6 linked regions of the Homo sapiens genome follow. The protein of the gene in region 1 purifies or fractionates together with the protein of each later gene. This does not show direct contact. Each region holds a gene or a part of one and is shown in the gene's direction. Other genes may lie near its edges. The genes, in order: LRRCC1, SLC25A31, MYH7B, PIBF1, CEP131 and ATP2A1.

Region 1 (5,052 bases):
ATTGTGTTTAATGCCATAAGGACAAGGGAGACCAATATCTGTACTTTCATAATTGGGATCACCATGACAAGTGGTTCAGAAATGACTACTCTGGGATGGTTACAGTAAACTTTTGCCTCTGTAATTCTCCTTTTGCAAAGCATATTTTGTTGTTTTGTTGTTGATTAATTCTTCCATACCTACCCAATTACATTTTACATGTATATATACCCACACACACAGAGGCATTCAGTTCACTTCAAACACTGTACTTTTTTCCAGGACATACCCTGGAATTTCTTTGGTCCTACCAAGTGATAGAATCTATTAACTTTGATCCATTGTATGTCGATTTTAAACTTTTAACTCTCAAAGAGTAGTTCTATTTACTGTCTTTTCAAGTTCTTGGGTATCATCTTACCACAGTACTTTTTAAATTATTCTGATATATCCAAGAATTCTACCCTACCTGAAAATGTTGAACCCTGAACATTTATGAAATCATTATCTTTTTTAAAATCTTAAGGCACTCATTAATCAACAGAGCACACCCATTATAAAATTTATGAAGCAGTTTGTCCAAGTTACTATAATTTTATTAATATTCTTTTTAAAAAGCTGTTTGCATATACAACTAGAAATGTTAATTTAGAGAAAAGTAATGTGAACACTACTTTTTTGAGTTATTTTCTATGTTTCATTCTTTACAGTTGTAATCGTAAAATGAAACCACCTTACCTTAAAGAATTATATGTAAGCTCATCTTTAGCAAACTGTCCTATGTTACAAGAATCAGAAAAGCCAAAGACTGAAATAATTAAAGTAGACCAAAGTCACTCAGAAGACAACACTTACCAGGTATGATTTAAGAGTTAAAGAAAAAATGAGTATGAATAATTTTAAATACAGAGTCCCAGAAAAATTATGCATGCTTTTATTAGCAAAAAGTGTTTGAATTTTATTGGAGTGATGAAAATGGGTTATTTTTTCCTTCCTGATTTCCAGATTTTATGTAATGTTATTTTTGAACGAATGAAAATTACATTTTTTTATGATCAGATTTAAGTGAAATCATTTGTTACATGCTTCTGGAGGAAGAAACAGTTATGAATTTTTTAATTCTTATTCCTTAAGGTAGTGCTTCCTACTTTTTTTGGGTGTCAGACCCTTTTCAGTATCTAAAAAAATTTACAGGTCTTCTCAAAGAAGCCTATTTTTACACTCAAAAAAATGTATATATTTCAAGGTTTTCATGGACTTTCCTGAAACTCAATTTTGGACCACTGGATCCCAGATTAAGAGGTGTTCAAGGCCGGGCGCGGTGGCTCACGCCTGTAATCCCAGCACTTTGGGAGGCCGAGGCGGGCGGATCACGAGGTCAGGAGATCGAGACCATCCCGGCTAAAATGGTGAAACCCCGTCTCTACTAAAAATACAAAAAATTAGCCGGGCGTAGTGGCGGGCGCCTGTAGTCCCAGCTACTTGGGAGGCTGAGGCAGGAGAATGGCGTGAACCCGGGAGGCGGAGCTTGCAGTGAGCCGAGATCCCGCCACTGCACTCCAGCCTGGGCGACAGAGCGAGACTCCGTCAAAAAAAAAAAAAAAAAAAGAGGTGTTCAAAAATGTTTTAATTCTTTAAAATTTGCTTAACATTTCTCATGTTGAGAAACTTCAGTACTTGTGGTTTCATTATTTTATATTTTTCATTAACTTCCCCTTATATTACTTGTGTATTGTTCTTTCAATAATAGAATTGGTACATTTTAGGCTACTGGTTTCCTCCCCTTATTCTCAACTATAGAGGCTTTAATATTGAAAAATAATAATTATCATTATGACTTTGGACACACTTCATCTTTCTTCTTACTTAACCTATTGTGCCTGTGTTTCCCAAGTTACATATTCATTTTTCTCATGAAAAATCAATCTTTTCTGATTCAACCCCCGCCCCAAGTTTGTTCGAGATTAGATCCTTACCAATCTTTATATTCCCTTGCGTGCCTTGGTAAGGACTCTGTTTCCTTAATACAGAGTCTGGCATGTGGGTGCCATGCTATGAGTATATACTATTTCAAAAAAGGAATCTTATCTACTATGGCATAATAATAGCAGCTAACATTTATTGATTGGTTATTATGTAGCAGGCACTGTTCTGCACTTACCTACATGCTTTGCTACCAGTAACATAATTTTTGGCCCGGCGCAGTGGCTCACACCTGTAATCCCAACACTTTGGGAGGCCGAGGTGGGTGGATCACTTGAGGTCAGGAGTTCGAGACCAGCCTGGCCAACGTGGTGAAACCCCATCTCTACTAAAAATACAAAAAAACAGCCAAGCTTGGTGGCACATGCCTGTAGTCCCATCTACTCGGAAAGCTGAGGCAGAAGAATTGCTGGAATCCAGGAGGTGGAGTTTGCAGTGAGCTGAGATCATGCCACTCCACTCCAGCCTGGGTGGCAGAGTGAGACTCAAAAAAATAAAATAAAAAGTTTCACTGTAGCTCTTTGAAGTAGGTACTATTATTCCCCTGTTATAAATGGGAAAATTGAGGCTGTGAGAAGTTAGGTAACTTTTCTAAGTTCACATAACTTTGTTGTTTTCTTTCAGTCCCTTGTTGAACAGCTAGACCAAGAGAGAGAGAAGAGATGGAGAGCTGAGCAAGCCGAAAATAAACTCATGGATTATATTGATGAGCTGCATAAACATGCAAATGAAAAAGAGGATATTCATAGTCTGGCTCTACTTACCACAGATAGGTAAAAAGAAATTAATAAACCTGAAGATACCTCATAGCATAAACAATACTGACTTTAGAACTGGAATACATTAGTTTCAGTGTGGTTCAATCAACAACAATGTATGTGGTTTTAGTTTGATTTGAACTAATTTTATTAGACAATTTAGCACTTTATTAGCTTGTTATATCAACAAGAAATTCAGGTACATGTATTTGAGCCCTCAAGCAGGAAGGTGTCAGATAAATATTATAAGTAAAGAACAGCAAGAGACTAGAGCAGTGATTAACAAACTTTATGTAAAGTGCCAGATTCTGTAAAGGGCAGGCATTGGCAGCCTTTTTCTTTAAGCTTCATGGGTCATATTTGATCTCATCACATACTTATCTTCTGCAATGGGCTTTTGTATCATATAGCCCAGTTTCTTAATTCTGATGTTTTTATTCTATCCTCACCATTACGTCTCCCATTTTATCTGGGTTTTTTGTTTTGTTTTGTTTTGTTGTATTGCATTCTTTAATACAGGTCTGTCATTTCATTCTGTGAAAATACCAGTTTTTTAAATTACAATAACTTTTTTTCTTCTGTTTCCTGTAATTATTTCTAACGTCATGCTTTTCCTCAAATGATTATAACATGTTTAGAGTTTCTTATGGTTTCTTACCCTTGAATGAGCACTAGGTTTTTAGACTTGACATTTGCTAACACACTTTGGGAAGTTGCTCTTGGTTCCATTTCTTGTCTGATTGTGCAGTGGATAATTCCCCTTCTAAAATCTGATTTGGATAAGTTGATGTACACAGTTCACAGCCCAGTTCCCGATTTCTTTTAGGCACTTTTGTGATACTGACGTGGTGTTTTCTACCCCACTGCATGTTTCTCTGATAGGTTGTACCTGTGGAGTATAAGGACAATTCTAATACGCAACATGCATGCTATGAGAACCTCTATAATTATAAAGCTGTGATGCGTTATGTTATCACTAGCCCTTCTACCACTACCCACCAACTTCCTGCCTTATTTGTGTTTTATAAATGTCTGTCTGAATTGACACAAGAAGCTACTGGGTATGGATGAGGGAACAGGATGTCTCAATTAAGAGTGCTCTGACTACCTCAGAAAAACAGCACTCCTGCTTTCAGTAAGTGCATGAGTAACCAACATTATGTAGTGACAGATTTATAGAGATCTTGTGACTGAGTCATGGACAGATAGTAGAAGAGAAAAGATATGTCTTCCTTTTTTCAGAATGGAGCAGTTTCATGAGGCAAAGCCTGAGTGTTGTAGGAGTTGTTTTTAATTTCAATTTAGTTCCATTTGCCTTGTAATTGAAATTATTCCCAAATTTTGGCATTCTCTTATCCTTTGTTTTCAGTTATATGTGTATGAATTTTTACTTTATTCTGTATTCTAGGTATTTAGTGGGATATTAGAGGACGCTGTGTCTAGGGCTGCTAGCCAAAGTCCATTTAAACTGGAAGACTTTGGGCACACTTTATCTTTCTTCTTACTTAACCTATTGTTGTGCCCGTGTTTCCCAAGTTATGTATTCATTTTTCTCATGAAAAATCAATCTTTTCTGATTCTTCTTTTATCTGTGCCACCCCCCCACCCCCCCCACCACCACATGTTTGTTTGAGATTAGATCCTTACCAATCTCCCTGTTCCCTTATGTGCCTTGGTAGGGACTCTGTATCCCTAATGCAGGGTCTGGCATGTGGGTGCCATGCTGTGAGTATATACAATTTCAAAAAATGAATCTTACCTACTATGGTATCTTTATTATCCAAACCTCCTTGATGACCAGATCTGTTCATCTAATTATCTACTAAAAATGCCTTGCCTGTATTCCTCATAAGTTTCTTAAGATCACCATGGCCTCAGGTGGATTCATTCTTCTTCCTTATTTTATATTTCTTGCCCTAATAAATGGTGCCCCATCCAGCATCCAGTCAGTCACCAAAACTATAGAAATCTAGGAATCTTTGTTTTTTGCTTCCTTTCTCTTTCTCCTATCCCACAACCAGTTGATATTACCATCTTTATTGATACTTTTATTCATCAATTGATATTGATATCATCTTAAAAGATGTTGAACTATCTCCTCTGTATCCCAAAACTGTTACCTTTCTTTAGGCCCTTAACTGTTGCTTAGATGATTGTTCCATTTCTGTTTCTCTGTGGCTTTCCCTGCCCCTACCCATATACAGTCTAGCACGCTTTCATATAGCATATCAAACAGGAGTTGAGAGCATGAACAAAGGAAGACCAGTTCAGAGAGTACTCTCATTGAAGTCAACAATTTTATCATTTTTATATGTGTAATATACTTAACACC
Region 2 (4,022 bases), on another chromosome or scaffold:
AAATATTTTTAAATCGTGTTTTAATTTCTGAGTGGTAAATGCCAATATACATAATAAAAACGGAAGCTTCATTGTGTCTTCAATAATTTTTTTTAAGAGACAGGGTCCTGCTCTGTTGCCCAGGCTGGAGCACAGTGGTGAGATAATAACTCACTGCAGCCTACAACTCCAGGGCTCAAGCATTTCTCCTGTCTTAGCCTCCTAAGTAGCTATACTTAGGACTACAGGCTTGTGCAGCCACGCCCAGCTATTTTTTTTTTTGTAAAGGAGGGGTCTCACTATGTTGCCCAGGCTGGACTTGGCCCAAAGTTTTGGGATTACTGGTACCTGGCCTTCAATAATTTTTCAGAGTGAAAAAGAGGGGTCCTGCAATCGAAAAGTTTGTGAACTACTCTTCTAGATAGGTCATTGGCCCTCAACCCTAGAATTAGAATTACTTCAAACACTAGAATTACCTGGAGAATTTAAATACTGATGCCAGGCCTCACTTCTAGACGTTCTGATTTAATGTGCAGGGCCTAATCCCAAGCATCAATTTGAAAAACAAAACAAAACACCCCTCATCCCCTTGAATGTGCAGTCTGGATTGAGAACCACTGCTCTGGATATTATCAATTTAAATACAATATGAAAAAGAGGAACATGTATTATGCTATGGGGGCACAATCATCAAAACGACACAGAAAGTGACTAGACAAAGGATCCCTGCTTAATTAAAGGAACAGATTAAAGCAATTTCCAAGGGAATTTGAAGCATTAACAGGCACATAGGGTGAAATTTAAGGGGAACATCACTTGAATCACACAACAGGTAAGACTGTCTTTTTTAAGATGCCAAGAAAGGTCAAAGGAACCATCTCTGGTCAAAAAAAACGTAACGGATTAAAGCGATTAAGAAAGTGAAGGGGGTAACACTAGGAACTAAAACTAAATTCTGTTAATCTCACACCGCTGGTTTACTGCTCTGGCCTAGTCTCAGCTACTAAATTTCTTCACACAGAACTGGCTCTCCTCGGCCCCTCCCCTCGCCTTTCCTGCTCAATGCTCACCGCCTCCGGACCCCTCCCTCATCAGAAAGCCCAGGCTCCGCTCGTAGAAGTGCGCAGGCGTCACCGCGCATCCAGGAGCCACGTGTCAGGAGTCACGTGTCAGGTGTCACGTGTCAGGCGTCACGTGGCTGGAGGCCGTTGGAGCGCCTGCGCAGCTTTTCCGCACGCGCCTCGCCGGCGCGCGGCTCTCTCAGCGTCCCAAGAGCCACTTTCTCGCCAGTACGATGCTGCAGCGGTTTTCCGGTTTTCCGCTTCCCTTCATCGTAGCTCCCGTACTCATTTTTAGCCACTGCTGCCGGTTTTTATATCCTTCTCCATCATGCATCGTGAGCCTGCGAAAAAGAAGGCAGAAAAGCGGCTGTTTGACGCCTCATCCTTCGGGAAGGACCTTCTGGCCGGCGGAGTCGCGGCAGCTGTGTCCAAGACAGCGGTGGCGCCCATCGAGCGGGTGAAGCTGCTGCTGCAGGTGCAGGCGTCGTCGAAGCAGATCAGCCCCGAGGCGCGGTACAAAGGCATGGTGGACTGCCTGGTGCGGATTCCTCGCGAGCAGGGTGCGTCAAGGCAGGCCGCCCCGACAGCCTCTCCCGGCGCCCTCGTCAGCTTCCCAGAGAAGAGGGTGGCTGGGAGGGGCATGATTGTGGGCCCCACAACCACAGCTACAGCTGTCGGTGATGAATTTGCTTCTTACCCTTCCAGAATTTAGTTTCTGAACCTAACAGGCTCTGCTTTTCCAGGGCCGCGTTGGTCCTGACCAAGTCCTGGTACCGGGGAGACCACTGCCTTCTCTTTCTCTAAATCTGCAGTGCGATTTACACCTTGGTGCACCTGTGCCAGGTCCAGAAGGAGAGTGGTTGACCTCCCAGGATTGAGGGAGATGCCATTAGGCACTCTGCTATAACTAGTGCTCTAAGTTGCTTAAATATTTGTTGGTATAATCACCCCACTATGCTCCAGCATGGGCGACAGAGGAGACCTTGAGTCAAAATCTATATGTATATTTGTTGAAATAGTATGTCTAAGAGAAGTACAAATATGGGAGCACTAGGGCTTACCAGTACTCTGAAACCTATTAGTGAAAAGAGGTTCTGCTTATTCTACTGAAGACCAAGGGGGTACTTCGTTCTGCCCAAAATTCAAGGGGGCCCTAAAAAAAAAAAACCCAACCCTCAGTCATCAAGATAAAAAGTATTTTAAGGCCAGGCGCGGTGGCTCACGCCTATAATCCTAGCACTTTGGAAGGCCGAGGCGGGCGGATCACTTGAGCTCGAGCTCAGGAGTTCTAGACAAGCCTGACTAACATGGCGAAACCCAGTCTATGCTAAATATACAAAAATTAGCCGGGCGTGGTGGCGCACGCCTGCAGTCCCAGCTACTTGCGGGACCCTGATGCGGGGATTTCAGGGAGCCCAGATCGCGCCACCGCACTCCAGCCTGGATGAAGGAGTGAGACCCTGTCTCAAAAAAACAAACAAAACTTTAGGGTCCTTCCGTTTCCGAAGCCCCTCTCTTTCAACTAGAGAGAGAGCTGTTCTCCTTTCTCTTTATTTTTTCTATTAAACCTCCACTCCTAAAAACAGGAAAAAAAAAAAACTTTAAACTATTTTAATGCAATCTTTTAAAAATCAAGTCATGCAAAAGAATTCATAACAAACACAATATATACAAGTTTAAAATAAAGATGGGATCAGTATTACCAGTTTTTCTTTTTGCATCAAGCACTGTCCTTATTTAAAATTTCATTTTTGTTCATCATTGATTTTTTCTATTAATATTGGAATGATTTAAAGAAATAACGAAAGTGCTTTGTGAACCATTGCTGCAAAATGGCTCCCAAGTTAGCTAAAGGGATAAGTCTATCAGATATTTTATATAATCCACCCATATAGTTGGATTCAATAGAAAAATCTGTATGATCTTTTAAAAAGAAATAGACATTTATTGTGTATTCTCAAGAAATGAAGTGGCTTCAACTCCAGTGCAGACCTTTCTTTTAGTCCTGTTCTAGGGCCAGATACTGTCCCATTTAAAAAAGCACCTTGTACCCTAGGAATGCTAGGGATGTGGTTACAACTCTTCCAGACCTGTGGCGTGGAGTATATGGGGTCAGGGGTAGAAACTTAATGCATCATCTGGGAGCTAAGCTCAGGTCTTTCATAGTTTGCCTCTCTCCACTCATTCATTTAATTAAAGCAAGCTTCTCATTTCCCCCAAGATTTTTTCAGGAAAAGCAAGGAACCTGTCTCTTCTTCGTTTATATTCTAAGACTTCTGAAGAGAAGTAGGGGCCTCTCTATTATTAGCTTTTCTGCTTCAAATATTTTGTCAGGTAAAATGAAGTATTCTGGTCAGATAGGGCTGACTAGTGCTAATTTATTTCATATTTTAAATGTTTTTCACAATATTTAAACCTAAACGTATTCAATATGGCCCTTGTAAGTTGATATCATTCTCAGATGTATCCTGGTCCTTGCTTTAAGTTCCAAGATGAGAGGATCATAAGTAGAACTTGAAGATGTTTTCTATTATATATAAAGCTTTATGAAGGTACCATGGTGTATCCTATGCTAAGAGATCAGTAATTTACAAGGATACTATTGCCATCTAGAGGCAATTTCGGAAACTTGTGGGGCAATTTTTTTTTATTTAGCACAAAGATAGAGGGGTATAATCCTACTTTACAATGGTATGAAAGGCAAGGGCCAGGAATGTTAAACGTCCTGCTGCTATATGCAGGCCAGTCATACATGATGAAGATTTATCCCGCAACCTGAATGACTTTTAGATCTCCCCTTCGATTTTCGTGTAGCAGTGAAACCTGTTTATGTTTCTCTAAGCCTAGAAATAACTTAACTCTGATTTACTTATAAACACATTGTCTGGGGCATGATTTTAGTATACACTGATTCCAGTAATGCAGCTACCATATAAGGAAGTAGAAAAAAGATCGTACTTTCTTCTGTTCAGAAGTTTACTA
Region 3 (5,771 bases), on another chromosome or scaffold:
TCTTTCTTTTTTTTTTTTTTTGACGGAGTCTGGCTCTGTCGCCCAGGCTGGAGTGCAGCCGCACGATCTCGGCTCACTGCAAGCTCCGCCTCCTGGGTTCATGCCATTCTCCTGCCTCAGCCTCCCGAGTAGCTGGGACTACAGGCACCTGCCACCATGCCCGGCTAATTTTTTGTATTTTTAGTAGAGACGGGGTTTCACCGTGTTAGCCAGGATGGTCTCGATCTCGTGATCCCCCACTCTCGGCCTCCCAAAGTGCTGGGATTACAGGCGTGAGCCACCCCGCCCAGCCGACTTCCCTTTCAAGTAAGATTGCTGTGTGGATTAAAAGAGAAAAATCAGTGTGAAATTTATCAGCAGTGTTTGAAGCTCTATACATGAGACCATTTTTTGGCTGTACTCTCTTTATAGGTAGGAGGAGACTTGTCAGAGGTCACACAGAAGCCTAGTGGCAGAGCCAGGACAAGAACCCATTACCTTGACATTAGAGTAATGAAACCCTCCATGAGCCCCCATCGTTCCACAACTCTGAAATTCCAACATCTGTTTGCTGTTGGGCTTTTATTTAGTTGGCAAACACTGATTTGCATTTAATGCCACTCCCTTGACTAGGTACTGGGGATATGGAGGAGGATAAGACATAAAGATAATCACCATGGGCCAGGTGTGGTGGCTCACTCGTGTAATCCCAGCACTTTGTGAGGCCGAGGCAGGCGGATCACCCGAGGTCGGGAGTTCGAGACCAGCCTCACCAACATGGAGAAACCCCATCTCTACTAAAAATACAAAATTAGCCGGGCCTGGTGGCGCATGCCTGTAATCCGAGCTACTTGGGAGGCTGAGGCAGGAGAATAGCTTGAACCCAGGAGGTGGAGGTTGTAGTGAGCCGAGATCGTGCCATTGCACTCCAGCCTGGGCAACAAGAGCAAAGCTCTGTCAAAAAAAAAAAAAAAGAAAAAAAGAAAGAAAGAAAAGAAATCAGATGAAGGTGCTAAGTGGGCCCTTTGTTTTTCTCATTCTACAGCCTCAACCCTCCCTTGGCTTTATTTATGTTTTGCTGATGACATTCAAATCTACATCTTCACAGCAATACTTTCCTACCTTCAAACTAGAATATCCAATTTTTTCCTGCGAGTCTCCATACAACCAGAATAGAATTTGTTGTTGTCTCCCACAAATCTGCTTCTTCTCTGATGAACCCCACCCAGGTACCCAAGCCTTGAGTACTTGTTTCCTACATCTCACTCTCCCCAAATCCTATGGATTTTGCTGCCTAAGTATATAGTACTTTGAATTCCTTTATTTATCTCCATTTCCAGAGTTTGTAGCCTAGCCCCGGCCACTGTCATCTCTTCCCTGGGCGTGAAACAGATTCAGAGTCAGGTGTCTTCAGTGACCAGGATATGTTGGCCTCTGTCCCCCTTCCAGGACTTGGCACGTGCTGTCTTCTCTTTGGAACTCTCGCCACCACTCCTGATCTGGGCTCGCGATTTCGTTCCGGAAGCTGTCCCTGTTCTCCGCCCCGGGCTTCTACATTCTACAGCCCATCACTTTTCCCTGTACCGTAGGAACAGTGTTTGTCTTGATCACTTCTCTACCTAGTAATTAGCCGCGCTTAGTACTGTATTCATTCATCACATGAATGAATGAAGAATGAATGACAGACGGGTCAGATCACCGAAAGCCTCAAAACGCCCACAAGGAAATCGGTCGCACTTTATCGCCAGGACTTAGGCCAGTGCCTGGAAAGGCCCCGAGGCAACGACACGGTCGGCTGCCCAGGCTGGCCCCACTTCACGGGCCCGCTCGCTTCCACCCTGGACAAAGTTTGGCCCTAATCGCTCCCCGTTGTAGCTCTAACTGGCTCCAGTCTCACTGGCCTACATGCCCCGACACCGGCCCGATCTAAAGGCAGAAGATCCGGAAAGTCTGGGATCAGTGCGCGCCAGCCCAACCCCCTCACTAGACACTAGTTGCCCCGCTCCTACGAAGGGTTTCAGCCACAAGGTCTCCCGGCCTCCGGAATTCCAATCTCTTGCCAGACCCCTCCCTCACATCGTTCCTCCCGAGGAAACGTGACCCATGCCGGCCGCCGTGGCCGCCCCAACCTACTAGTTCGCCTTTCCTCCGCGAACGGTTCTCCCGGCCCTCGCGCCGCTACCCAGGCTCAGGGGGCGGGGCCTCGATGCGACCCAGTGCGCTTGCGCTGACCGCCCCGGCTAGGCTTAAAGAGCAGGCGGGGCAGAGACCCATACCTTTGGCGCTGAGTCGAGGCCAGGAAGGGGCGGTCGATGAGAGGGCGGCCTTAGCATTAGGAGTGCGTCGGCTGCACCCTGGCGGATGGACCTTGGGAAGGAGGGGAGGGGACCATCGGGGTCGGCGGGGAGCTACGGGTATGCATAGCTCATAGAGCGTCAGAGCTGACGACGACTAGTGGAAGATGGGGAAACTAATGCTCAGAGCGGGACAGTCACTACCTCAGGGGCACACAATTGATAAGGGTGGGGGTGGCCGTGGTAATGGAGGCCCCAAGGAGGGGCAGGGGCCCATAGTACGTCAGGGGCTGAGCCTGTATTAGAACCCAGGCTTGTTTCCCAGCCCAGCCAAGTCCCAGAAAAATCCCCCTGATTTTATCTATTTTTTTTTAACCTGGGATACCAGCAGGGAAAGCATTAGAGGCAAAAGGAAAGGATTTTCATTTTTCCAGGAATGCTGAAGTCAGGACTGTTTGAGGGGAGCCCTGTGTTTCTCAGACTCTCTTGTACCGTTTACATCAGGATCTGGGGCAGTTTTTAAAAATATGCGGATTCATGATTCCTACCCCCCACCTCATTGCTTGGCAGCCCCCAGGTGCCTTCCCTGTTTCTTCCTTCTGGGTTGTGATAGGCTTGTCTGCAGTCCGAAGCACCTGATACGAATTTTAGTTAAATGGAATGTATCAGTCCAGCTTCTAGGGAATTAACCATAAATAAGACACAGCCACTGCTTTCAGTCTGATAAGATAGGCAATAAACTGCCTTTCTGAAGGAATCAGGGATGGTTTTTGGGGTCTTGAAGGATGGATAGGAAGGTATAGGTAGTGAAGGAGGTAGGGGTAGAGGTGAGAGGCTGGGATGGGGACAGTGTTCCAAATTGCAGGAACAAAAGCAGCAAAGGCTGGCTGGGTGCAGTGGCTCAGACCTGTAATCCCAGCACTTTGAGAGGCCGAGGCAGGTGGATTACTTGAGCTCAGGAGTTGGAGACCAGGCTGGGCAACATGGCGAAACCCCGTCTCTACTAGAAATACAAGAATTAGCCGGGTGTGTTGGCCCGTGCCTGTAATCCCAGCTACTCGGGAGGCTGCGGCGTGAGAATTCTTGAGCCCCGGAGACGGAGGCTGCTGTGAGCTGAGATCACGCTGCAGCACTCCTGCCTGGGTGACAGCGTGAGACCCTGTCCTAAAAACAAAACAAACGAGCAGCGAAGGCATATAATTCTGAGGGTTGCTCGGCTTGTTTTACAGACACTGAGGAGTTTGGTGTGGATAATGAGGAAGGGCCTGAGGGTTGCAACAGGACTTAGGCGCTTAGGCTTGGAGAGGTAGCCTCAGACGCCAGTTCCACTGAGCAACAGGAGCTAAGGGCTTTAAGCAGGGGAAGGACATGGTTAGTTTTGTGTGTTAGGCACTGGTTACAGCGTGACAAATGGTTTGGAAGTGGGGAGATGGGCCAGAGAAAGCAGAGAGAGTTAAGATGTGAGATCATGAGGCTGTAGCCAGTGCAGCAGCTGTGGAGATGGAGCGAAGCGAACAGATCAAAGAAATTTAGGAGTGAGAACTCCTAGTGATCGTAAATCAGTGGCCCAACCCAGGGACCAAGATCCTTTTGACTCTTTTTTTTTTTTTTTTTTTTTGAGACGGAGTTTTCGTTGTTGTTGCCCAGGCTGGAGTGCAGTGGCACGATCTCAGCTCACTGCAACCTCCACTTCCCAGGTTCAAGCAATTCTCCTGCCTCAGCCTCCCAAGTAGCTGGGATTACAGGCGTCCACCACCACACCCGGCTAATTTTTGTATTTTTGGTAGAGACAGGGTTTCACCATGTTGGCCAGATTGGTCTGAAACTCTTGAGCTCAGGTGATCCACCCGCCCCAGCCTCCCAGAGTGCTAGGATTACAGGCGTTAGCCACTGCGCCCGGCCCCTTTTGACTCTTTAAATAAACCATGTACATTATCTGACTACAGGACAGGCTGAGTCCTCCAGTCTCCCGTGTGTGGTCACGGGATGGGGGGAGATGGTGGCAGATAGGTGTCTGGTTATTCCCAGAACAATGTTTCCTGATGTCCTTTCCTCGTTGGCTTTTGTACCTGAGGGGATAAGCAGCTGTTAACTAGAATAGGCCCCAGGTGGCAGGAAGAGGCTCCTGGGTCAACCAGGAACAAAAGAAGCTATTTCTAGTGCAGCATGAAATTAAAAATCAAAAGCATGACCCAGGGTTCTCTGTGCAGGTTCCCCTCTTCCAAGACGGGTGCCAAGTGATGAGTATCAGGTGTCTATGGTGAGATTTGGGGAGGATCCCAGACCTTAACAGCCCTTTGGTTGAAACCTCTCACAATGTGGCAGGTAAGATGTCTTTATTCCCATTTTGTAGATGTGGCAGCTGAGCCTCAGAAGTTACGTGACTTGTTCAAGGTGACCCAGTTTGTGGTAGGACTGGGAGTGAAGGACTCTTGACTAAGAATCTTTCCAGGGAGCGTTTGCCCTTTCTGCACTCTCTGCCTGGGTGCTTTCCTCCAAAATCCTGGCATGACTGGCTCCTTTGGTCATTCAGATGTTTCATCCCTGGAGGCTGCCCCACCCTATAAGTCTATCACGTTATCCTTTTCTTTTTTTTGAGATGGAGTCTCACTCTGTTGCCCAGGCTGGAGTGCAGTGGTGCGATCTTGGCTCACTGCAACCTCTGTCTCCTGGGTTCAAACAATTCTCCTGCCTCAGTCTCCTGAGTAGCTGGGATTACAGGCACGTGCCACCATGCCCGGCTAATTTTTGTATTTTTAGGAGAGACAGGGTTTCACCATGTTGATCAGGCTGGTCTCAAACTCCTGACCTTGTGATCCGTCCGCCTCTGCCTCTCAAAGTGCTGGGATTACAGGCGTGAGCCACCGTGCCCGGCCTTGTATTTTCTTCATAGCAGTTATTCATATCTGAAATTGTTGCTTTTATTTGTTTGCTGTTTCCCTCTGCTAGAATGTGAGCCCCATGAAAATGGGCCATGTCTGTCTTGTTCACCACTTTACCCCCAGGACCTGACTGGTGCCTGCCACGTGGCAGATGCTCAATAATATTTGCTAACTGATGGAAATAGTTTGGGGAGAGAGAAAGAGAAGGAAACCAACATTTAATGAAAGCTGAGGATGTTTCAAGTACTTCTCACAAATTACCTCATTTAATCCCTTCACAGCCTTTCAAGGTAGAAATCGTATCTCCATTGGGTGAATAAGAAACCATGCTAAGTCAGGTCAAGTCTGTGGTTTGTTACTTTTGAGGCTATAGACTCGTCTGAGATCCATTAGTATAAAATTTTGCATCAGCTACGTGGAGGAATTCACAGACCTTCTCAGGCTCACTTGGGGATCTCAGATCAAGACACATAGGATTGGGGAACTTGCCCAGGGTCTTTTTGGCCCCAGGCCTTTGCTGGATCCTCACTCCCTGGCAAGGATGGAGTCCATGTAGTGGACTGTAGGGAACCTGCTGAAGATTCCGGAGCAGAGGGAGATGATTTGCCCTGAGCCT
Region 4 (5,052 bases), on another chromosome or scaffold:
CCCAGGCTGGAGTGCAGTGGCATGATCTCAGCTCACTACAACCTTCACTTCCTGTGTTCAAGCGATTCTTGTGCCTCAGCCTCCCGAGTAGCTGGGACTGTAGGCCCGTGCCACAACGCCCAGCTAAGTTTTGTATTTTTGGTAGAGATGGGGGTTTCACTATGTTGGCCAGGCTGGTCTCGAACTCCTGGCCTCAAGCAATCCACCCATTTCAGCCTCCCAAAGTGCAGGTGTGAAGCCACTGCACCCAGCCATGCCATACACTTTTTAGCCTGGGCAGGAAACTTAAAGCCTAGGTCTTGAAAGAAAGGTATTTTTAATTGGTCATTCATTCTCCAAAGCTTATTGAGCATCGTATGCTAACGTTATGAAAAATAAATTTTCCTCACTAGACTATAGCTCCATGATAATGGTTGGAAGTCACAGGAAAGGTAGATTTCTGCTCAGTGTAAGCCTGTTATTGCTATTAACATTGAAATGGCCTGATCTTAAGTTTCTGAGCTTCCTGTCATTGGAAGCATTTAAGTAGTCCTGAATAGTCAACTGTTAATAAATATTATAGGTATTTCTATTTTGGAAAGAGATTGAACCAACTGCCCAGGGTTTCAAGGATTAAGTTCAGCAGTTAATACCAGAGACTTGAAAAATGGTGGTTTCTGGTAACAGAGACCTGGAAACCATGGCTTAAGCAAGAGAAGGATTTTGTTTCTTTGGTATAACAAAAATCCAAAAATAGGTATTTTAGTAGACCTCAAGTGATTACTCCTTGATCGCATTAGGAACCCAGGCTCCTTTTAACCTTAGCTATTTTCAACATATGCTTTTCACCTGAAATCATAAGATAGCTTATCTGCCTCCAGTATTGTGTACATGTAAAAGGTGGTAATAAGGAGAAGGATAGTGGAAAAGGGGGCATGTGCCAAATGAGTCAGTCCTCTTTAAAGAGTTCTTCCAGAAGTTCAAGCCAGTGGCCTCAATTGACTAACATTGTATAGCATGACCACCCCTACCTACAAGGGATGGGAAGCTAACTGGACATGTTGTTACTAATAAAAACCAGAGTATGTCAGAAAGAAGGGAAGGTTTGATGTTGGGAGGCAAGTAAGTTTTTTCTTCTACCCATCAAAATCTTTTTTTAGTTAGAAAATATTTGAATCTAACATGTCCCACTCCATTGTGGCACCAATACAAATGGTTATGGATACATGGCTTTATTATAGTTTGTTACTAGGAATAGTCTTGGCCGTATTGATTTGAATTCTCCATGTCTAAAAACAGGAACAAGCAGGTCCAAGAACACTTTAAAAGCACTTCCCACTCAGCTGCTTGTTAACTGAAAGAATGTAGAAAAGCTACTCAGAAGAGTAGCTATTCAGGCCAAACTTCCTGATAGTAGAGCATTGTTAGCTTTACACTTTTATTTCCATCTATTGCTGCCTAGATTCCCTTCCTTACTGTACTTCTTTATTCCTTTCCTCTTCTCTGTTCTTGCCTTTCAAATTTTTAGACAGGGTCTCACTCTCTTGCCCAGGCTGGAGTGCAGTGGCTTGATCACAGCTCTCTGCAGCCTCAAATTACTGGGCTCAAGCAATCCTCTCATCTCAGCCTCTTGAGCAGCTGAGACTACAGGCGTGTACCACCACACCCAGCTAATTTTTTTAATTTTTTTGTAGAAACAGGGTCTCACTATGTTGTCCAGGCTAGTCTCAAACTCCTGGCTTCAAGCAATCCTCCCACCTTGGCCCCCCAAAGTGCTGGGTTTACAGCCTGAGCCACAGAATTGAGCTCTTTAAAATTTTTAAATGCCCCAAACTCTTTTTATTTATCTCTCATTAGAGATCTGTGGGTTCCTTATTACCTGGGAAATGAATACATTTCCCAGCTTGTCCTTGAGTTAAGAGACTCAATTTAGAAGTTAATTGAAATTATAAACATTGAAACCCTGAAAAAAATGTTTTTTTTTTCCTCGTGATACAGGTTGTTTCTTATCTAAAATGCTTGGGACCAGAAATATTTCAGATTTTTGATTTTTTTTTTAATTTGGGAATATTTGTGTTAGACCAGTTGAGCATCCCAGATCTGAAAGTCTGAAATCCAAAAGGGTCAACTGAGCATTTCCTTTGAGTGTCATAGTGACTCTCAAAAAGTTTCAGACTTCAGAGCATTTTGAATTTCAGATTTTAGGGTTTGGGATGCTCAACATGTAACAGTATTCTTGATTTGGGAAACAGTAATTATAAGGAATGTGTTTATTTTACATTTTATATTGATTTATTTATTGAGATGTTGCTGGATATATGCCAATGGATATGACAGAGGTCCCCCTTCTTATGGCCAAGACAGAAAATATTTTATGCTTTGTAGGCCACCTATGCTCTATCAGATTTTTCTTATGGGCTGGATTTAGCCCATCACCATTTTTTAATTCTTGCTTTAGACTATGTAGTCAGAAAAGCTATTGGCAAAGTTTAGCAGTTAAGAGTTACATGTCCTGATTTCTGTATTCAAAATGGCACTAAAATAATAGACTAAGGGCAGACAAGACAGAAACAGAAGAGTTACATTCCTAAGTTTTTGGCTTATTTAACTGGGGCCATTTATAAGAATGGAAGGCTGGGAGAAAACTGATCTGGGAGGTAAAATATATTAATAAGTTCAGTTTTGAAGGTGTAACTTATAGATTCCTAAATGTAATTGTCAGTTAGAGTTTAGGAGGAGTCCATCACACACACACACACACACACACACACACACACACACACACACTTATAGATAGATCACACACACCCTTATAGATAGATCACACACACACATAGATAGATAGATAGATAGATAGATAGATAGATAGATAGATAGATAGATAGATAAATCAGCATATAGGTGGCACCTAAAGCCATGGGATTGTATGGTATTTCCTAGGGAGAACAGAGGGCTATAAAGTAAGTCAAAGGGGTAGTCCAGCTGAGGAGCCTAGAAAGCTTAAGAGTATTTAGTGAGTTAAGAAAACTAGAGAAGAGTATCATGGAAGCTAAAAGAGAATGAAGTGGTTAGCTGTATCAAGTCATGCTGTCAAATAAGATAAATAGGCAGAAAAAAACAATGCACAGGACATTATGGACTTTAACAAGAATAGTTTCACTGGAATAGTATGGGGCAAAAACTATATTGAAGTTTTGCTCTGAAGACCAACAGAGAAATGGTGCTATAGCAAAGAGAATGATGTGATCAAGGGACCATTTGCTTGATGATAGAATGATTCAGTAGAGAAGAGGGACTTGACGATGCAAGAGGAGGGATTTACTTGCATATGTTATGGATTGGCTGTGAAATTCATGTATTTTTGTTTGTTTGTTTGTTTGTTTGTTTGTTTGTTTTAGATGGAGTCTCACTCTGTCGCCCAGGCTGGAGTGCAGTGGCATGATCTCAGCTCACTGCAACCTCCGCCTCCCGGGTTCACGCGATTCTCCTGCCTCAGCCTCCCGAGTAGCTGGGACTACAGGCACATGCCACCACACCCGGCTAATTTTTTGTATTTTTAGTAGAGACAGAGTTTTACTATGTTAGCCAGTATGGTCTCCATCTCCTGACCTTGTGATACACCCGCCTCATCCTCCCAAAGTGCTGGGATTACAGGTGTGAATCACCACGCCCTGCCTGAAATTCATGTATTTTAAGGGGCAAACAGGAATCGTCTTGGTTAAAGCAAAGGGAATAAAGAATTTTCTAAATAGACTAAGAGCAAAATCCAAGTGCTTGAGAAAGCACAGCATACTTGGGGGATGGCAAGCACTTAATATTGGCTGAAATGGAGTTTCCTTTTAAGCTAATGACAAAAGTAGTTGGCTAGATCAAGAAATACCACTGTATTATGCCACAGTGTTTAGAATTTATTCTGAGGACAGTGAGGATCCTCTGAAGAATGTAAAACTAGGAAAATAATTTTTTTTTTTTTGAGACGGAGTCTCGCTCTGTCTCCCAGGCTGGAGTACAGTGGTGCAATCTTGGCTTACTGCAGCCTCCGCCTTCCAGGTTCAAGTGATTCTCCTGCCTCAGCCTCCTGAGTAGCTGTGACTACAGGCGCCCGCCACCATGCCTGGCTAATTTTTGTATTTTTTAGTAAAGATGGAGTTTCACCATGCTGGCCAGGCTTATCTTGAACTCCCGACCTCAAGTTGTCTGCCCGCCTCGGCCTCCCAAAGTGCTGGGATTACAGGCGTGAGCCACCGCACCCAGCTGAAAATAAATTTTTGATAGCATTTTTTAAAGGTAAGATAGAGGAATATAAATTTGGAGGTTGGCAAAACTGGAGGCAGGAGGCCAGGCGCGGTGGCTCATGCCTGTAATCCCAGCATTTTGGGAGGGCAAGGTGGACTGATCACTTGAGGTCAGGAGTTCAAGAACACCCTGACCAACATGGTGAAACCCTGTCTCTACTAAAAATACAAAAATTAACCGGGTGTGGTGGCACTTGGCTGTAATCCCAGCTACTCAGGAGGCTGGGGCAGTAGAATCACTTGAACCTGGCAGGAGGAGGTGGCAGTGAGCCAAGGTTGCGCCACTGCACTCTAGCCTGGGCAACAGCACTTGGCCTTCCAAAGTGCTGGAATTATAGGCGTGAGCCCCTGTGCCTGGTCCCTCTATCCATTTTTAGCCTGTTTCTTTCAAGTGTTTTTAAAATATGTTTATTATGAAACTGAAAGTTTTTCTTTATGACAAATCATATAATTTATCTTTTTCTCTTTACGAAGATTGAAGAATTGGAGGAGAAACTTAATGATGCACTTCACCAGAAGCAGCTACTAACATTGAGATTAGACAACCAATTGGCTTTTCAACAGAAAGATGCCAGGTAAGAAAAGTTTTTTTTAAAAAAAAAACAACATCTATTTAGCAATTAAAAGTAATTTTATTGCCTGTTCATGTTTGTGACTGTAAGCTAAAATAGAGAAATTTTAAGTCAGAGATAGCAATAATTTTTACACCTAGACCACAAAAAAAGTAGGATACTTGATATGGTACATAAAATACAGAAAGTCAAAATTCAACATTCAT
Region 5 (5,052 bases), on another chromosome or scaffold:
TGGGCTAGGCCTCAGGGGACCCATGAGTGGAAGGGATTGGGGACACATTTTTCCTCCGGCATTTAGAGCCTTTGCCAAGGGAATAGTCTCAGGGGAGAGACCGTGTGGTTATTCTCCAGGGTTGGCACAGGAAGAATTCTTGCCTTTTTTTTTTTGAGATGGAGTCTTGCTCTGTCACCAGGCTGGAGTGCGGTGGCATGATCTCGGCTCACTGCAACCTCTGACTCCCTGGTTCAAGCGATTCTCCAGCCTCAGCCTCCCGAGTAGCTGAGATTATAAGCACGTGCCACCACGCCACCACGCCCGAGTAATTTTTGTATTTTTTTCGTAGAGACAGGGTTTCACCATGTTGGCCGGGATGGTCTCGATCTCCTGACCTCATGATCCACCCGCCTTGGCCTCCCAAAGTGCTGGGATTATAGGCGTGAGCCACTGCACCCAGCTCAATTCTTGCTTTTTAATTTATTTTTAAGTTAGAGGCAGGTTCTCATCTGTCACCCTGACTGGAGTCCACGATCATAGCTCACTGCAGCCTCTACCTCCTGGGCTCAAGAGATCCTCCCCCTTCAGCCTTCGGAGCAGCTGGGACCACAGGTGCACAACACCACTCCTGGCTAATTTTTAAATTTGTTGTAGAGATGAAGTCTCGCTGTGTTGCCCAGGCTGGTCTCAAACTCCTGGGCTCGGGCAATCCTCCTTCCTTGACCTCCCCAAAAGCCCTGGGATTACAGGTTTGAGCCCCCACACCTGGTCCTAAAATTTACCTTAGTATTTATCAGTTATATGTTCATACACAGCCAAAATGTCAAACAGCACCATAGGCTTAAAATGTGCTGCCCCTCCTACCCTCCCCACCCCTGCCCCTCCTACCTCCCCTCCCGCTGCCCCTCCTACCCCCGCGCCGCCCCTCCTACCCCCCCACCCCTCCTACCCCCATCCCGCTGCCCCTCCTACCCCCCACCCACTGCCCCGCTGCCCCTCCTACCCCACTGCTGCCCCTCCTACCCACACTCTTGCCGCCCCTCCTACCCCTGGCGCCTGCCCCTGAGGAGCAGCATCTTTTCAAGCTATTTCTTCTGGTGTTTTTTTGTTTGTTTGTTTTTGTTTTTGAGACGAAGTCTCGCTCTGTCGCCCAAGCCAGAGTGCAGTGGTGTGATCTCGGCTCACCGCAACCTCCGCTTCCCGGGTTCCAGTGATTCTCTTGCCTCAGCCTCCTGGGTAGCTGGGACTACAGGCGTGTGCCACCACACTAGGCTAATTTTTGTATTTTTAGTAGAGACGGGGTTTCGCTATGTTGGCCAGACTGGTCTCGAACCCCTAACCTTGTGATCCACCCGCCTCAGCCTCCCAAAGTGCTAGGATTATAGGTGTGAGCCACTGCGCCCGGCCATTTAGTGTTTTATTGAAAACATTTATGAATACATGCCATGCTGCTCATTCCTGAACAGCTCAAAATCAGTCCTGGTAGGTTATTCACACCACCCAAATTGGCAGATGAGCCGCGCTCCAAGAACCAGCTGTTGAACGTTTGTGAGTGCAGGCTGGTGCCAGGTGCAGGCCAGGCTGGTGCTGGGCGTGGGCTGGTGCCTGGTGCGGTCCGGTGCAGGTGTGGTCCGGTGCAGGTGTGGTCCGGTGCAGGTGCAGGCTGGTGCAGGTGTGGTCCGGTGCAGGTGCAGGCTGGTGCAGGAGCAGGTTTCGTGCATTGCTCTGCTCTCTGCTTATCCTCATTCCCATCATGTTCTGTTGGTTTGATTTTGGGCCTCTGACATGTTGGTCTTTGCCCAGATGTCTTGGTGGTTCTTGTTAAAAGGGAGGCCCTAGGAGTTAGCTGGAAGCCTATTGCCTGGTGGCTTCACTTCGGGGCACTGGTGCAGAGAGCAAGGCATTGTTGAGTATCCCCACCTACCAGTGTCTGTGGGACCCTCCTCACAGGCTGAGTCTCTCCAGAGACAAACCCCCAGCCCGCCCCAGGGTTCGAGTCCTGGCTGCCCGGTTGCACTGCTGGGGAGGGGTGGCGGTGGCTGTCCTGGGTGAATCACCCATCTCTGCCCCACCTGCAGGGCCAGCTGGGGAGGGCAGGGTGGATGCTAGCGGCTCAAGTGAGGGAAGGGGCTTTGCCGAGCAGCCAGATTCTCCCCTTTGCCTCAAAGCCTGTCCATGCCTGTGGGAGAACAGTGTGTCTCCGTGGGGGCACGGGACCTGCCAGCTCCTCGCCCTCCCTCCCCACAATGCCTGGACCCTCCCTTGTGTCCCAGTTGCTCTCTGCTGGCCCTTCTGTTTCTAATCCTCCAGGTCTGCAGATGCCCCTTTCCTGCAGTCTCCCCATCCCTCCTGTCAGCCTCGGTATTGGTCCTGTCCTCCCGCCTTCCTGCGGGTCTGCGGAGGGGCAGAGGCAGAGAATGTGGCTTCCATCCGTCGTGTGGGATGGGGCTTCGCTTCTGTGAGTCTGCTCTGGAAGCTGATTGTGAGCTGCTGGCCTGAGCTGCTCCCCCCGTCTTGGGCACGTCCAGCGTTCATGCCTCGATTCTATCCCCTGCCCCGTGGGAGCCCCTGGTCCAGCTTTCCTGTCCTGGGAAGAACCCCATCATCAGGGCGCAGGCTGTGGAAGGGGCCTGGGGACACTGGACGACAATGCTGCCAGCACGTAGCAAGCACTGAAGGCCTTTGTTCCCTCCCAGCCCGTGCTGCGAGTGTAGCTCTGAGATCTCAGGCGTCCCCTCCAGAGGCCTGACCATTCCTGTCTCTCTTCCGGCCTGGCAGGAGCAACAAGGGAGCAGTGGGCAACTGCGTCACCACCATGGTGCACAACCGCTACACCCCCTCGGAGAGGGCGCCTCCGCTCAAGAGCTCCAACCAGACTGCCCCCTCCCTCAAGTAAGGTCTTCTGGGGAGGCCGCGGGGCTGCGGGGTCCGACCTCAGTTAGGGCATGTAGTCAGTGCACCTGGGGTCCGACCTCGGTCAGGGCACGCGGTCAGTTCACACAGGGTTCTACCTTGGTCAGGGCATGCGGTCAGTGTGCATGGGGTCCAACCTCGGTCAGGGCACGTGGTCAGTGCACGTAAAACCGCGTGGAGCAGCTGTGAACCGGGCTCCCCATCCACGTCCGCCGCCCTCTTCTGTTCTTGGGTCGGCAGCTTCCCACAGAGAGAAAACAGCCCAGATGTGGCACAGTGAGGTCTGGGGCTCACCCTGAGGTGGGGCCCCCAGGAGGAAGCCAAGGCTTGTGCAGAGCCCAGAAGGCGTCACAGCGGGGGTGGACCGAGCGGGGCAAAGGAGCCCCCGAGTCCACCACCACATGGTCTTGCGGGGATTGGGGATGGCCTTGGGGTTGCTCAGGGGTCCCTCAGGCTCTGGACTCCTGTGACTTTTGGGAACTTTCTCAATGGAATTTTTTTTTTTTTTGAAATGGAGTTTCATTCTTGTTGCCCAGGCTGGAGTGCAGTGGCATGATCTCGGCTTACTGCAACCTCTGCCTCCCAGGTTCAAGCGATTCTCCTGCCTCAGCCTCCCGTGTAGCTGGGAGTACAGGTGCCCGCCACCATGCCGAGCGAATTTTTTTGTGTTTTTAGTAGAAATGGGGTTTCACCATGTTGGCAAGGCTGGTCTCGAACTCGTGACCTCAGGTGATCCGCCCGCTTTGGCCTCCCAAAGTGCTGGGATTACAGGTGTGAGCCAGGGCACCCAGCCTCTCAATGTAACTTTAGTGAGAAGTTTTTAAATGCAAAGAGCTCATTATCCTGGGTACCAGTGAGTGGGACCTTGTCAGGGCACAGGTGGTCCAGAGGCCAGGATGTGGCACGGGAGAGCCGGCCTCGCACCTGCCGCTGTCCCCCTCTGCCCCGGCTGCCAGCCTGCCAGCACCACTTCCAGGCTCAGTCCTGGGACTTCCGGGAGTGGGCACCTGCTGCCTGTGGGCAGAGCTGTTCCCCTGGGCGGTGAGACGAGGGTGTTTTCTTCTTACCTGTCAGCAACATCATCAAGGCAGCCACCTGTGAGGGCAGTGAGAGCAGCGGCTTTGGGAAGCTGCCGAAGAATGTCTCCAGTGCCACCCACTCAGCCCGGAACAATACTGGGGGCAGCACGGGCTTGCCCAGGCGGAAGGAGGTGACGGAGGAGGAGGCTGAGAGGTGACCGATCTTGGGGCGGTGGGGGGGGGCCTGAGCCTAGAACACAGAGGTGGGCAGGCATCAGGGTCTGGGGGGCTCACACCTCCGAGGATAGAAATTTCCATTTAATAATTGTTTTAATTTAATTTTTTTTTTTTTTGAGACAGAGTCTCGCTCTGTCGCCCAGGCTGGAGTGCAGTGGCGCGATCTCTGCTCGCTGCAAGCTCTGCCTCCCGGGTTCACACCATTCTCCTGCCTCAGCCTCCCGAGTAGCTGGGACTACAGGTGCCCGCCACCACGCCTGGCTAATTTTTTGTATTTTTAGTAGAGACGGGGTTTCACCGTGTTAGCCAGGATGTTCTCGATCTCCTGACCTCGTGATCCGCCCGCCTCCGCCTCCCAAAGTGCTGGGATTACAGGCGTGAGCCACCACCCCCGGCCTGTTTTAAAATATTGAGACCGAGCAGACCCCATGTGGTGTGGTTCTATTTACATAAAACACCAAGCAAAGGCAAGTTTATCACAGGAGGTCGAAGGCTGGTGTAGGGGTGGCAGAGAGGGCTCCTCCAGGGGCAGTGGAACATTCCAGAACTGCACTGTGCTGATGGTCACACAACTCTAGATTTGCTAAAAATCATTGACTTGTACACTGAAAATGGGTAGATTTTATAGTATGGAAATTGTACCTCAGTAAAACTGTTAATTAAAACAACATTAAAGGCAAAGAAGATACAGAACTGAAAAAAGCCAACAACACCCAAAGCTCCAGGGGCTGTGGGCGGAGCCTCCTGTGATGATGACTGTTGGGGGCTGTGCCCCTGCCGCTTGCCCCTGGGGAGCTGGAGGGGCTGTGGGCGGAGCCTCCTGTGACCATGACAGTCGTTTCTTGTCAGGACAGTCGCGGGGGTACCTCCCTGCCTGGACTTTCGGAGCCTGCTCCTGGCG
Region 6 (5,052 bases), on another chromosome or scaffold:
AACAGAGCGAGACTCCATCTCGCCGTGGACACGGGGGCAGAAGGGATGGGTGTCACGATGAGGGGTTGCCAGCTTCAGGAGCTCAAGCCAAGGGCCTGATGCAAGCCCTGGGAGCCTCCCTGAGACCTGAAGGATGGATGAGGAGAACGAGTCAGACACAGATTGGGTTTTTCTTTGGAAGGAAGAAAATTCCATTCCCAAGTGACCTCCCTCTTCCCTACTCTCTCCACAGTGGGGGACAAAGTCCCTGCAGACATCCGAATCCTCGCCATCAAATCCACCACGCTGCGGGTTGACCAGTCCATCCTGACAGGTCTGCTGGCCTGGGTGGGAAGATGCATGGGGGTGGGACGTGGGGAGGAAGAGGCAACAAGGGGGAGGTGAGTGGAAAGACAGAGAACCCTCACTGTCTGAGCAACATAAAGAGACCCTGTCTCTACAAAAAAATTTTAAAAACTAGCTGAGCATGTTGTTGAGTGCCTGTAGTCCTGACTACTCAGGATGCTGAGGCAGGAGGATCGCCTGGGTACAGGAGGTCAAGGCAGCAGTGAGCTGTGATCACACCACTGCACTCCATCCTGGGCCACCCTGTCTCTGTCAAAATAAAAACAAAAGGCTGTGCGAGGTGGCTCATGCCTGTAATCCCAGCACTTTGGGAGGCCGAGGTGGGTGGATCACCTGAGGTCAGGAGTTAGAGACCAGCCTGGCCAACATGGTGAAACCCCATCTCTACCAAAAAATACAAAAAACACAAAAATTAGCCAGGCGTGGTGGCAGGCACCTGTAGTCCCAGCTACTCAGGAGGCTGATACAGTAGAACTGCATGAACCCAGGAGGCTGAGGCTGCAGTGAGCCAAGATCATGTCACTGCACTCCAGCATGGGCAACAAGAGCAAGACCCCATCTCAAAAAAAAAAAAAAAAGACAAAACAAAACAAAACCCAGCACTGGGGCCTCCCCCTGGCTCGCTAGTAGTGGCTGTGGCAGTGGCAGCACTGCTTGACATTTTCTTTTTTTTTTGAGATGGAGTCTTGCTCTGTCACCCAGGCTGGAATGCAGTGGCGCGATTTCAGCTCACTGCAACCTCTGCCTCCTGGCTTCAAGCAATTCCCTGCTTCAGCCTCCAGAGTAGCTGGGATTACAGACGTCCACCATCACACCCGGCTAATTTTTGTATTTTTAGTAGAGACAGGGTTTTACCGTCTTGGCCAGGCTGGTCTTGAACTCCTGACCTCGTGATCCACCCACCTCAGCCTCCCAAAGTGCTGGGATTACAGGTGTGAGCCACCCACTGCACCTGACCTGCTTGACGTTTCCATTCTGTCCCAAGCCTGAAACGGGACGGGTAGTGGGAGAAGGCTGGATGTTGTTGCCTACTCTCTAGATAGCCACCAGCCCACCCCTTCCACATGGACATAGGGCCACAGACACCTCGAGAACTGTCCTGTCTCCTTCAGCCTCCTCAAAAATCCTCCAGGGAGGAGCCATGAGATTCTAGGACAAGATAGGGGGTTCAGATACACTGAAAACCATGGCTGCTAGGCTGGGCGTGGTGGCTCATACCTGTAATCCCAGTGCTTTGGGAGGCTGAGGCAGGAGAATTACTTGAGGTCAGGAGTTTCAGACCAGCCTCGGCAACACAGCGAGACCCCATCTCTATAAAAAAAAAATTTTTTTAACTAGCTGGGTGTGGTGGTGTGCACCTGTAGTCCCAGCTACTTGGGAGGCTGAGGTGGGAGGATTGCCTAAGCCCAGAAGCTTGAGGCCACAGTGAGCTATGATTACCACGGCAGTCCAGCATGGACAACAGAGCAAGACCCCATCTCTATAAAATTTTTTTAAAAATTAGCTGGGCATTGTACTGCACACCTGTAGTCCCAGTTGTTTGGGAGGCTGAGGTGGGAGGATCACTTGAACCCAAGAGTTTGAGGCTGCAATGAGCTATGATCACACCACTGCGTTCCAGCCTGGGCAACAGAGCAAGACCCTGTCTCTGTAAAACCACCATAGCTGCTTCTGTTTCCGCACTGGCAGGGAGAAGCGAAGAAGAGGCAGAAAACATTCCCCATGGTCCCAGGGGGCAAGGGCTAGGCTGGCCCAGGCTTGCTGCTGAGCCCCTGCTCTTAGGGTGAGGGAGGCATGGTCGTAAGTGTAGGTCCCCCTTCCTCCCAGAAACATGCTTGACAGTTAAAAGTGTGGCTCCAAATATGTCCACTTATTTGATTTTCACCCAAGACATTGTTTTGCAGTGTACATGTCCTTGTCCCCATTTTACAGAGGAGCACATGGAAGTTAGGTGATCAAACACAGCTTGTTAGTGGTCAAGCTGGGGCTTGGGTCGAGGTCTTTTTAAGAGCCGTGGACTTCTGGCTGGGCACGGTGGCCTGTAATCCCAGCACTTTGGGAGGCTGAGGTGGGCGGATCACTTGAGGTCAGGAGTTCGAGACCAGCCTGGCCAACATGGTGAGACCCCGTCTCTACTAAAAATACAAAAAAAAAAAAAAAATTAGCCAGGTGTGACAGCATGTGCCTGTAATCCCAGCTACTTGGGAGGCTGAGGCAGGAGTATTGCCTGAACCCGGGAGGTTGCAGTGAGCTGAGATCTTGACACTGCACTCTAGCCTGGGTGACAAGACTGCAACTCTGTCTCAAAAAAAAAAAAAAAAAAAGGAGCAATGGACTTCCTAGCTGCCTTCAGTGGCTTCTTCCAGAGTCCAGACATCCCCCAGGATGGCTACTTGGTCCTTACCAGGAGCTGTCCTGCTGAGCAGGGAGAGAGTTAGGCACGGGAAGCCTGGGAGAAGGACATGATGTCATCCGAAAACCCCTTGGCCCCTTCTCCACAGGCGAGTCTGTATCTGTCATCAAACACACGGAGCCCGTTCCTGACCCCCGAGCTGTCAACCAGGACAAGAAGAACATGCTTTTCTCGGTGAGCAATCCGGGACCAGCCATCACACACTCAGTCAAGCCAGGTGCCCGGGTTGGAGAGAAACATGGCGTGTGAGAAGAGATGGCGTGGGGAGATGCGGCATGAGGGTCACCTCTTGCCTGATTCCCTGCCTCCTCTTTCCCTTCCCAGGGCACCAACATTGCAGCCGGCAAGGCCTTGGGCATCGTGGCCACCACTGGTGTGGGCACCGAGATTGGGAAGATCCGAGACCAAATGGCTGCCACAGAACAGGACAAGACCCCCTTGCAGCAGAAGCTGGATGAGTTTGGGGAGCAGCTCTCCAAGGTCATCTCCCTCATCTGTGTGGCTGTCTGGCTTATCAACATTGGCCACTTCAACGACCCCGTCCATGGGGGCTCCTGGTTCCGCGGGGCCATCTACTACTTTAAGATTGCCGTGGCCTTGGCTGTGGCTGCCATCCCCGAAGGTATGAAAGCCTTTCTTTTCTCCTCCCATTTGCTAATCCCATCTGCAAAGACCCCTTTTCTTTTCTTTTCTTTTCTTTTTTTCTTTTTTGTTTTTTGAGATGGAGTCTTGCTCTGTCACCCAGGCTGGAGTGCAGTGGCGTGATCTCGGCTCACTGCAAGCTCCGCCTCGCGGGTTCACGCCATTCTCCTGCCTCAGCCTCCCTAGCAGCTGGGACTACAGGTGCACGCCGCCATGCCTGGCTAATTTTTTTATATTTTTAGTAGATACGGGGTTTCACCGTGTTAGCCAGGATGGTCTCGATCTCCTGACCTCCTGATCTGCCCGCCTTGGCCTCCCAAAGTGCTGGGATTACAGGCGTGAGCCACCGCACCCGGCCTTGCTCAGTGCAACCTCTGCCTCCTGGGTTCAAGTGATTCTTCTGCCTCTGCCTCCCAAGTAGCTGGGATTACAGGTGCACGCCACCATGCCTGGCTAATTTTTGTGTTTTCAGTAGAGATGGGGTTTCACCATGTTGGCCAGGCTGGTCTCGAACTCCTGGGCTCAAGCAATCCACCCGCCTCGGCCTCCCAAAGTGCTGGGGTTACAGGTGTGAGCCACCACGCCTGGCCCAAAGACCCCTTTTCCAAGTAAGGTAACATTTACAGGCTCCAGGGATTAGGATCTGGTATCTTTGCGGACCATTATTGTTTGTTTGTTTAATAGAGACAGAGTCTCACTCTTGTTGCCCAGGCTGGAGTGTGGTAGCACAATCATAACTCACTGTAATCTCGAACTCCTGGATTCAAACAATCCTCTTGTCCCAGCCTCCTGGGTAACTGGTACCACAGGCAATCACCACCACACCCAGCTAATTTTTAAATATTTTCAGAGGAGTCTCACTGTGTTTTCCAGGCTGGTCTCAAACTCCTGGCCTCAAGTGATCCTCCCGCCTCAGCCTCCCAAAGTGCTAGGATTATAGGTGTGCACCAACGTGCCCAGCTGGGGGCTACTATTTAGCCCCTTGCAGGTTCCCTCACACCCTCCCCTTGCAGGTTCCCTCACACCCTCCCTCCCTCCCCACAGGTCTTCCTGCAGTCATCACCACCTGCCTGGCCCTGGGTACCCGTCGGATGGCAAAGAAGAATGCCATTGTAAGAAGCTTGCCCTCCGTAGAGACCCTGGGCTGCACCTCTGTCATCTGTTCCGACAAGACAGGCACCCTCACCACCAACCAGATGTCTGTCTGCAAGGTCAGGAGCAGTGTGGGCAGCGCGCTCAGTCAGAAGGCTGCCTGTGGGGGTTAAATGGGCCCTCCAAAGATAGAGGTCTCCCTTCATCACTGCTGGCTTCTCATCTGGGCCTGCAAAATGCTCAAAGGGCAGTAGAACGCCATCCTGTCTGCCATGAACGGGATCAGAGAGGACCCTTGTGCCCCAGCCAGACAGCTCACTCTGACCACCATCCACGCACCAGGCACTGCCACACATCGTCTCTCATCCCTCACAATAGCCCATTCAGAGGATGGTCTCATTATCTTCATTTTTTTAATTAAAAAAAATTATTATTATTTTGAGACAGAGTCTCACTCTGTCGCCCAGGCTGGAGTGCAGTGGTGTGATCTTGGCTCACTGCAACCTCTGCCTCCCGGGTTCAAGCGATTCATCTGCCTCAGCCTCCCTAGTAGCTGGGAC

Evidence for each region.
Region 2: the proteins of LRRCC1 (region 1) and SLC25A31 purify together in Homo sapiens (affinity purification with mass spectrometry; one large-scale study listed by BioGRID and IntAct). This does not show direct contact.
Region 3: the proteins of LRRCC1 (region 1) and MYH7B purify together in Homo sapiens (affinity purification with mass spectrometry; 2 studies listed by BioGRID and IntAct, with this or other methods). This does not show direct contact.
Region 4: the proteins of LRRCC1 (region 1) and PIBF1 purify together in Homo sapiens (affinity purification with mass spectrometry; 2 studies listed by BioGRID and IntAct, with this or other methods). This does not show direct contact.
Region 5: the proteins of LRRCC1 (region 1) and CEP131 purify together in Homo sapiens (affinity purification with mass spectrometry; 2 studies listed by BioGRID and IntAct, with this or other methods). This does not show direct contact.
Region 6: the proteins of LRRCC1 (region 1) and ATP2A1 purify together in Homo sapiens (affinity purification with mass spectrometry; 2 studies listed by BioGRID and IntAct, with this or other methods). This does not show direct contact.

What each region holds. Positions count from the first base shown.
Region 1 is NC_000008.11:85,124,103-85,129,154, forward strand, and holds part of LRRCC1 (leucine-rich repeat and coiled-coil domain-containing protein 1), read left to right. Parts: intron 1-689; coding exon 690-837; intron 838-2,586; coding exon 2,587-2,735; intron 2,736-5,052. UniProt on the Homo sapiens protein: Required for the organization of the mitotic spindle. Maintains the structural integrity of centrosomes during mitosis.
Region 2 is NC_000004.12:127,729,178-127,733,199, forward strand, and holds the start of SLC25A31 (ADP/ATP translocase 4), read left to right. Parts: upstream 1-1,222; 5' UTR 1,223-1,368; coding exon 1,369-1,600; intron 1,601-4,022. UniProt on the Homo sapiens protein: ADP:ATP antiporter that mediates import of ADP into the mitochondrial matrix for ATP synthesis, and export of ATP out to fuel the cell.
Region 3 is NC_000020.11:34,953,615-34,959,385, forward strand, and holds the start of MYH7B (myosin-7B), read left to right. Parts: upstream 1-2,253; 5' UTR 2,254-2,393; exon of another isoform or gene 2,394-2,413; intron 2,414-4,483; 5' UTR 4,484-4,598; intron 4,599-5,771.
Region 4 is NC_000013.11:72,787,699-72,792,750, forward strand, and holds part of PIBF1 (progesterone-induced-blocking factor 1), read left to right. Parts: intron 1-4,748; coding exon 4,749-4,849; intron 4,850-5,052.
Region 5 is NC_000017.11:81,201,316-81,206,367, reverse strand, and holds part of CEP131 (centrosomal protein of 131 kDa), read left to right. Parts: intron 1-2,760; coding exon 2,761-2,874; intron 2,875-3,969; coding exon 3,970-4,128; intron 4,129-5,052. UniProt on the Homo sapiens protein: Component of centriolar satellites contributing to the building of a complex and dynamic network required to regulate cilia/flagellum formation.
Region 6 is NC_000016.10:28,884,343-28,889,394, forward strand, and holds part of ATP2A1 (sarcoplasmic/endoplasmic reticulum calcium ATPase 1), read left to right. Parts: intron 1-232; coding exon 233-313; intron 314-2,846; coding exon 2,847-2,932; intron 2,933-3,082; coding exon 3,083-3,380; intron 3,381-4,444; coding exon 4,445-4,611; intron 4,612-5,052. UniProt on the Homo sapiens protein: Key regulator of striated muscle performance by acting as the major Ca(2+) ATPase responsible for the reuptake of cytosolic Ca(2+) into the sarcoplasmic reticulum.